Linked DNA regions of Homo sapiens: all the other regions are linked to region 3. The links come from fine-mapping of genetic effects on gene expression. A gene starts in region 3. Each other region holds a variant in brackets. All regions are shown on one strand. Distances are between the middles of the regions. Region 1 overlaps RGP1 (RGP1 partner of RAB6A GEF complex). Region 2 has its middle 4.4 kb from the start of OR2S2. Region 3 holds the start of NPR2 (natriuretic peptide receptor 2).

What was found.
Region 1: its variant is fine-mapped to the expression of NPR2 in whole blood (TOPMed, PIP above 0.99).
Region 2: its variant is fine-mapped to the expression of NPR2 in adrenal gland (GTEx, PIP 0.99).

Annotation. Positions count from the first base shown.
Region 1 is chr9:35,756,346-35,759,063 of GRCh38, forward strand. It overlaps RGP1 (RGP1 partner of RAB6A GEF complex), which reads left to right. Exons shown (of 9, transcript NM_001080496.3): 9 at 1-2,240. Among named protein-coding and RNA genes, the nearest start is that of MSMP, 3.4 kb to the left of the region's middle. RefSeq lists a silencer at 652-971. The variant T/A (reference allele first, on the strand shown) is at 1,129.
Region 2 is chr9:35,952,409-35,955,166 of GRCh38, forward strand. No RefSeq gene overlaps it. Among named protein-coding and RNA genes, the nearest start is that of OR2S2, 4.4 kb to the right of the region's middle. RefSeq lists an enhancer at 1-54. The variant T/A (reference allele first, on the strand shown) is at 1,538.
Region 3 is chr9:35,790,072-35,792,780 of GRCh38, forward strand. NPR2 (natriuretic peptide receptor 2) reads left to right here and starts at 1,520. Exons shown (of 22, transcript NM_003995.4): 1 at 1,520-2,709. The coding sequence starts at 2,338. It also overlaps a transcript of RGP1 not described here.

The DNA.
Region 1 (2,718 bases), 34 kb before region 3:
GAAATGACTGTGTCAGTGCACCTCAAACTCCCTTGCTGTCCTTTTCCAAGGAGACAGCTAAGGTGGATGGAGATGCAGAATGGACCTCACGTTCGCCCTAGTCAGGACTGATACCCTTTCCGTTTCAGAGGATTGCCAAGAAAAAACTCACAGTTGAGGCAGGGTGCTCTGAGGTCGGCTGCGGTGTGGGAGGCACGGCCTGGGCCTGCTCTCTGGGCTGGAGCAGGTGGATTCGAAGGCCTGTCTAGCACGAGGGCCCAAAGGTCTTGTCAGTGGCCAGTAGCTCTGCCGCCTTTCCCAGAGAGGGGGTCCAGGGGACATCCTGGAAGGCTGGGCCCTGGGCCACCTTCTGCTCTTGCAAGCTAGAGCCAGCCCAATAGGGGGCGGATGTGAGTGGGGAGCTGGGGCGCATGAAGGTGGGGGTGATGCCGAAGGGGAAGGGATCGCCAGTGGGGATTGGTGCGTGTGCGGAAACGGGGACAGAAGTGAAGGTTCATCGCCTATAACGAAGATGAGGTAGGCATATAGGGGCTTCTGGAAAGCTAGAGGCTGGGCTGAGCCAGGAGTCCTCTCCCAGAAGTTGGGGGGCGGTGCAGAGGTGTGGGTCGAGCCCGCATGCGTGCCTGCTGGGGAGGGGGTGAGTGGTGAGGACCAGGCCCGCTGGGTCCTGGGGGCGCGGTGGCTGGCGCGCAGGTCCCGGAGGGGGCGGCTGGCGCGCACTACACGCTTGGGAACAAGGAAAACATCCGCCGGAGGCCCGGCCGGGCGGCGCTCCAGCCTCGGGGCAGGTGCGCGGAGAGGAAGTGAGAGCATTCCGGCCCCCCCACCCCAACCCCGGCCGCTGGCCCTCTGGTGAGTCACAGCCGACCCCCGCCGCCGGAGGGAGAGGGGAGCTGCGGGCCAGAGCCCCGGAGGGTCTGGAGGAGCCAGGAGGGTTTCTGGGAGCAGAGGGTCACTTAGTGGGCTTCTGTCGTGGTGTCGCTACGGGCGCGAAACGGACACTGAACACAGTCTGACTGTATGGAGGCAGGTGGGGAGGGATCCCCTGGGAGAACTTGGCGGGCCGAGAGCAGACCCCAGGGCAAGGAGGGGCCCCCGAGGGGGAAACCGGGAGTCGGGCAGGTGGCG[T/A]AACCCAGAAAGGGAAGGAGAGCCGGATTGATTGGGGTGAGAGAGGAAGGAAGCACGCCAAGTTAGGCCTGGGAGAACTGAGGGACCTGAGGAGGGAGGAGGGAGACCAACACAGGGTGGGAAGGCGGAAATGGCCAAACCCCAGGCATCAGGTCTGTCCAGAGGCTGACGTAGACAGTGAAGGGTGAAGGGTAGGTTTTAGGAGTAGGGGGAGTTATGATTATTTGGTTACATTTTGGGATTATTTGGTCTCACAGGTAGAAGGGAGCCTGCTGGTCTCTGTGTAACGGATGGCTTAAAAGCAAGGTTGTCTGCGTCTTGGATTACTGTCTGCCATTCAGCCTTTGCCAAAAAATTTGGCACTGATCTGCACATTTTTATAGTCATTTAAAATTGTATGACTCTGTCAAATGATTTAAGTAATTTTGGTGGATTTTTAAAAATAAAAAAATAAAAATAGAAAAGTTGCACAATCTAATTCAATATTTGACTTAAAACCAAAAGTGAGGCTCTCAGATTGGTAATATGGTATTCAGCCTTTTTCTTGTTTGGCTTTTGTGCCATTTGCCCCTCACTGACTTGATTGAATTCTTTGTGGCTGATGCCTCAGTTTTTCTGGATCAGTAGTGCTGCACTTCCACTTTTCCTCTCCCTCATTTTACTGTCTTTATTTTTAGCCTTTTTTCTGTGTAGCCCTCTAACCTGCCCTTTATATTTTGAACCAAATAAAACATTTCTTGGAATGGGAGCTTTGGACTACAGTATACAGACAAACAACTCACAATTTTAGCATATGAGGCTACTATCTTCTGTGGATGTGTATGTAATTATACAGTTTCTGTATTTATCCTGTGGCTGATAGAAAAAGTTAAAGCTGTTTAATTCACCATAGTATTTCTACAACACAGCAATTTATTAGTCTGACTTCTCTTCTAAAATCAACTCTAAAATGGTATTTTGTACTTGTCTCAGAGACGAATTCTGCCATGATCCTTATGATCTGTGTTATGTTGGGCCAAAGGTGATTACTTTATAAATTATAAAGATCCCTAAACTCTGCATTGCCTTTGGTCCCAAACAAGCAAATCTGGGTCAATTAATGAAAAAAAAAAGAAAAGAAAAGAAAATGTCTTACTTTGGGCCCTGTTGCACTCTCCCGTGCTGTTTTAGCCCCAGCCCTACTCTATTCCCAGTGGCCTTTGCCTTCATTCCTTCTTTGCTCTGCTGGGCATCTTGAGAGGAAAACTTCACACCGACTTCCTCTACTATAAATTCTCTCCCTCCTCTCAACTCTACACTTCTCTTTGCCAACATACACCACTACTGCTTCACTGATTTTTTTTTTTTAAGCCCACAGTCCTTTCTGGCTCTTTTCCACCTTTAACACTCTTATGTTGAAATCTTCCGTTTTTCCTCCTTTCTCTTTAGTAAGACCTCAGGTTTTTAAAAAAGCTAGGCTTGATTGTTTATTCTGCATGGTCCACTTCTGCCTTCCTTCCTCTTCTATTACCCTTTTCTTATTCTAGACTGTTTTTAAACTCAGTTATGCTTGCTTTCACCAAAGCCTTAACCTTTCCTGTGATTAGAAAA
Region 2 (2,758 bases), 160 kb after region 3:
TAACTTTGCACCTGTTTATTTTCTTTTGTCTAAATACTATGGCATAACCCATACACCCCTTCTCTCAACAACACAGTTTAATCTGATTAGGGACAGACAGAGAATTGATAATGATCCATGAAATCCCTATAGGATTGTGTTCTAGATACCTTCTATGATAAACCACTTGAAATCTCTATTTCAAAATCTTGCTGCATAGTCCCTATAAAAATTCTTCCATATCTTTCCCCCTGAAAGAAATATGCGGGTTCTTATTGCTAGAAAGGGGACAAGTTATGCGACTGTGATCTTTTCTTATGACATCACTGTGGAGAAAAAGGCAGATTTTGCCTCAAGCTAGAAGATGAGAAAAGGCCCTGTTTAGCTGGTAGGGAGGACGGTGATGACTGCTGCTGAAGACTCAAGAGTCCAAGACAACCGGTTTCTCTCTATCTCTCTCCTTCTCTCTCCCTCTCCCTCTCTTCCTCTTTCCTTGTCTCTTCTTCTCTTCTTCTTTCCTTGTCTCTCCCTCTCCTCCTCTTTCCTTGTCTCTCCCTCTCTCTTTCCTCATCTTTCCCTCTCTCTTTCCTCCTTTTTCTTCCCCCAAATCTCCTCCCCTTTCTCCTTCTCACCCTCTCTTCCTCTTTTTTCTCTTCCCCTCTCTCTCCTCCCCTCTTTCCCCCTTCCGTTTTCCCCCTTTCCCCTCTAGAACCTGGATTTTTGCATATTAATTTTTTATGCAGCTTCGTTATTGAATTCTCCTACTGTTTTTCAAAATTGCCTTTTGATTGATTTTACTGTTTTATCCAGGTATAAAATTATGAGTGTATCAGCTAACAATAATAATAAAATTATTCTTTACCTTTCTTCTAGTTTCACCTTTTATTTATTTATCTCTACTCTCTAATTCAATGGTTGGTATATCCAGAAAAGGGTTAAAGTGTAACAGATTTGATTTGATGCACCATTACGCATGACACATACTTTTCACTAGAGATATAAATTTAATTTTATTAAAGAACACATCCATTCCTATTTTATTAGAAGGAATTTAAAACTAAGAAATTCATGTTCAACTTTTTCAATAGTTTTGAGGATCTATTTAACCTATAAACGTAGAGAATTATACCAAGACATATCCTTAAATTATTCTAGCTTTATTTTTTAAAAATAAGTCCATTAGGCTATGGTTTAGTATTCTTTCTATGTGCTGCTGAATTCTATTTTATATGTATGCGTGCATCTACATACATACACACGTAGGTAAATAGATGAGATAGGAAAGGAAAAGGTGGTGTTTTCATTTCCTGTACTTCCTTGTTATGTTTTTAATGGTATGGCATCAATGTTATGCTGGCTTGGTTAAAGCAATTTGGAAGATATCTTTCTCACTTTATTCTCTGAAATTGTTTAAACAGTATTAAAAACCTTTTGTTCCTTGAATGTTTATTACCACTCATCTGTGGAAACAGATGGCCTGGAACATCTTAAGGTGGTAACTGACAAGTTGTCAACTTCTCCTTAGGTAATTGGTATTTTAAGTTGTCTATCTTTTTAA[T/A]GGTTAACTGGGTAATCTGTTTTTTCTTAGAATATAAATTTCCCCCCCAAATTTTCACATTTATTTCTGGGAGTGGAACAAAATATCCTTACAAAATGTCTACTTTTCTTGGCACCAGTGGTTTGGATCAGATTAGTGTTTGGTGGTGTCTGTGGACTGGGGACCCTGGGGATGGGGATGAAGGGTGGGCTGAGCAGATGGAGCCCAACTCCCTCCCCTGGCCCCCACATCTATTCTGCCCCCCACCTCCATTTCAGCCAAAGCAGATATACTTTATATTTGGAGTTTTAACTTAAAGATTTCGTAGGGCATTTGGTCACTAGAGTAAAAGCCTAAAGCACCCACTAACCCAGAACTGTGATTTTTAAAATAATACATTTGTCTGTATGATTAAGTATAATAATATAATAGTTTTGCCTCCCCTTGACACCCAAAAGAGAGTGGGAGTGAAAGGTGCCACTGTTCCTAGAGGAAGCAATGTAATTTCTGACTCAACAGTTACACTATAATAATGTAATTTATAATATAAATGGATATGACTGCCATTCCTCAAGGAAGAGAAAGTGAGTGGAGGACAGCCTCACAAGAAGGCAGGCTTGTTCAAGTATCTCTCTCTGCCAGACAGATCTCCACTGCCCTGGGGAAACAGAGTTAGCTTAGCACCATCATTATTATTCCCAAGGTATTTTCAGAAATATCACACTGGAATTAGATGATACTGTGGACACAATTTAGTACCTGTCAGTTGGGTAAACTGGGTGATTTTGGCACAGGTGGAAGTATGCGGGCTATTTATGCTGGAGGGAAAAAGACCCAGGAACCAGGAGAACAATCTTTATATATCGGAAGAAAGAAGAGATAAGGTGTATTTCATGTAAAGGCACGAAGCTGAATTAGGACTGGAAGATGCTATCGGAGACAGATGTTAATGGAGACACGTATATGTTAGCACAATTCAAGGAAGAATTTGCTAGTAGGGCTGAATGAAACAGCTAGAACCTGGAAGTGTTAATTCTCTATCACTGGAGGTATCCAAGCAGATGCTGGATGAGTGGGGTCAGGGATATTGGAGAGAAACTCCATGAACTATGCAGTTAGCGGTGAAGAAAGAGACCTGTGCAGCTGCCTCTAAAAACACGACATGGCTCTGTAAATGTCTGAAGTTGGCTTGCATGGCCACTAGATGTCACTCTTGTGTATCTGCAGTAGCAAGATCGTTTC
Region 3 (2,709 bases):
TTTGGTTGACTTGGTCTAAAGTATTTCTCATGTTGTCTCGTCATTCTTTTGACTGTTCCTTTTTTTTTTTTTTGCCTTGGCCAGATAGGACAAAATTCCTTTTCACTGCAGTATTGGGAGCCTGGAACTAGAGTTACCAACCCCTCTGCGTTAAAGAAGGAGCTGTCCTGAGGCTTCCATCTCTACTGGGCTTGAGGCAAGAACATTGTTAGGGACGGCCTGCTCTTGGCCTCTGTGCCCCAGGGATTGCAAATGCATGTTCCTCAAAGGTAAGGGCTGTATCATTCGGCTTTCTTTGTATTCACAGGTACAGCTTGTGCTAGGCAGCCGGTGTTCAATAAATATCGTGCCTAAGGATAAAGTGGCATTGTCCTTAATTTCCCCCACCAAACCACTAGGTGTCGCCTTCATCTCAGGGAAACCATGCCCGTCCTCGCCCTATACACTCCCACCCCACTCCAGGGCTCCAGGAGCGCTCTTAGCTTGTGATTTCTGGAGAAATAGCTTGAAGGGGGGAGAGAAACCGTGGCTCTTAGCGCGGGCAGAGAATGGGCTTATGTGCATGTCCTTTATGACAGTTGGAGAAAAATCCCCAAGGTCCCATAGCAGTCCCTCTCAGCCACCATGAGATCATCCCTCACAAGCTGTTCTTGGGGTCAGATTGGCACTCCAGATATGAGGGCCCTAGGGAGAGCTTCCTAAGGGAAGCTGGGAGCAAGGTGGAACCCCAGGAGAGCGTGGATGGGCTTCCACTGCGGGGAGTGTCCCGCCGGTCCGTTACAGGCTTTCCCCAGGCGCCAGCCTGCGCTGTGCAGGAGACAAAAGAAAATCGAGGCCCTGACTGAGCAGATGGTGCGGAGGAAGCCGGGCGGGCTGCGGTGGGCCTCTGAGGACACGAGGAGGGCAGGGGGCATGGAGACAGCGGGGGGCCGAGAGTTGAGTCCCAAGCAAGAAGGAGCCTCGTGGACTTTCTAAGGACTGGTGGGAAGTGTACAGCAGGGGCCCCTGGCTGCTGGAGGGGCCCGTCCAGGGAGCGGGCATGGTCCGCGGTGGAGTAAGCCGCACTGCCGTCGGGAGGGCGCTATGGTTTGCTAGGTGAGGGGGCTGGTGAGGATACCACACGTCTGGGGATCCTCGACTGCTTCCTGGAGACTGGAACCACTGAGGGACTCAGGGAGTTCAGAGGGGAGACCCAAGAAGAACGGGCTGAGCGAGGGGGAGAGGACAAACCCTGGGGTCGCTGGCGTGTGTGAGATGGAAATGGAAGGAGGGGCGGCAGGGGGACCAGGGGCGTGGGGGAGACCAGGGTAGGCCCTGAGAGTGAGGGAGCGCCCGGGAACCCTGCTGGCCGGCGAGGCCTTGGTGCGGAGCCCCCAAGTGCTCACCGGGGTGGGTTTGGGACCTGGCGGTCCCGAGCGCCCGGGTGGGGGGTGGGGGAAGGCAGCCGGCGCCGGAGGGTGGGGCCGGGAGGGAGGAGGAGAGGCAGCGGGGGAGGGGCGGGGGCGGGCGGCCTGCCCGGGGGAGTCGCACTCGGCCGCCGGCGCAGCGAGCGGAGACGGGCCGGGCCGAGGCGACCTGACCCGGACGAGCGGCGCGCGCGGGGCCCAGGCGGGGGGCGGGAGGAAGCGCCGGGCAGCGCCGGCCGCCAGGGCCCAGGAGAAGCGGAGCAGAGAGGAGCGGGGACACGGGCGGGGCCGCCGTAGCTCCGGATGGGACCAGCGCCCGGGCCCGTTAGTCCAAGCAGGAGCTCCGGGAGAATCCTTCACAGGGAGATTTACCCCTGCCTTCCCCTGCCCTCCGGCCCAGGCCTCGCTTCGCTCCCCGCCTGCCCATGATCCCAGTCCTTCCGCGGCGCGGGCACCCTCCCACCTTACCCCCTTGGTCCTATGTGGCGCAGCGCCCTCCTGCCCTCCCGGCCCTTTCAGCTGTGAGGTTCCCCCAGGCCGTTTCTTTGTACCACCCGCCCCCCACCCCCACCCCATCCCAGTCCCAGATCCCCTTTTCCTTCTCAGCTTTAGATTTATCAGGCTTCTTCACCTCGCACTGTCCCCATCCTGGCCGCAGGCCCCCTCGGTCCCTCCCTCCCCCTGCCACCCCGTTCTCAGTCCTCAGTCCTTGCCCTAGGCTGGTAGCCCACTCCTTGCCCGCCCCCCGCCTTCCTCCCATCTCCCCCTCCTCTCCCCGGCCCCCAGCACCTTCTGCATCCCAGCCTACCTAGCCTACTCCTCCTCTTCCTGGCCCTCTTCCCCAGGCTCCAGGCTGGGGGGTGCTCGCGTCTCCCCTGTAGGCCAGAGCAGCCCCAAGTTCTGGGGGCGGTGGGGCTGCTGCTTTATCCCCATGGCGCTGCCATCACTTCTGCTGTTGGTGGCAGCCCTGGCAGGTGGGGTGCGTCCTCCCGGGGCGCGGAACCTGACGCTGGCGGTGGTGCTGCCAGAACACAACCTGAGCTATGCCTGGGCCTGGCCACGGGTGGGACCCGCTGTGGCACTAGCTGTGGAGGCTCTGGGCCGGGCACTGCCCGTGGACCTGCGGTTTGTCAGCTCCGAACTGGAAGGCGCCTGCTCTGAGTACCTGGCACCGCTGAGCGCTGTGGACCTCAAGCTGTACCATGACCCCGACCTGCTGTTAGGTCCCGGTTGCGTGTACCCTGCTGCCTCTGTGGCCCGCTTTGCCTCCCACTGGCGCCTTCCCCTGCTGACTGCGGGTGCT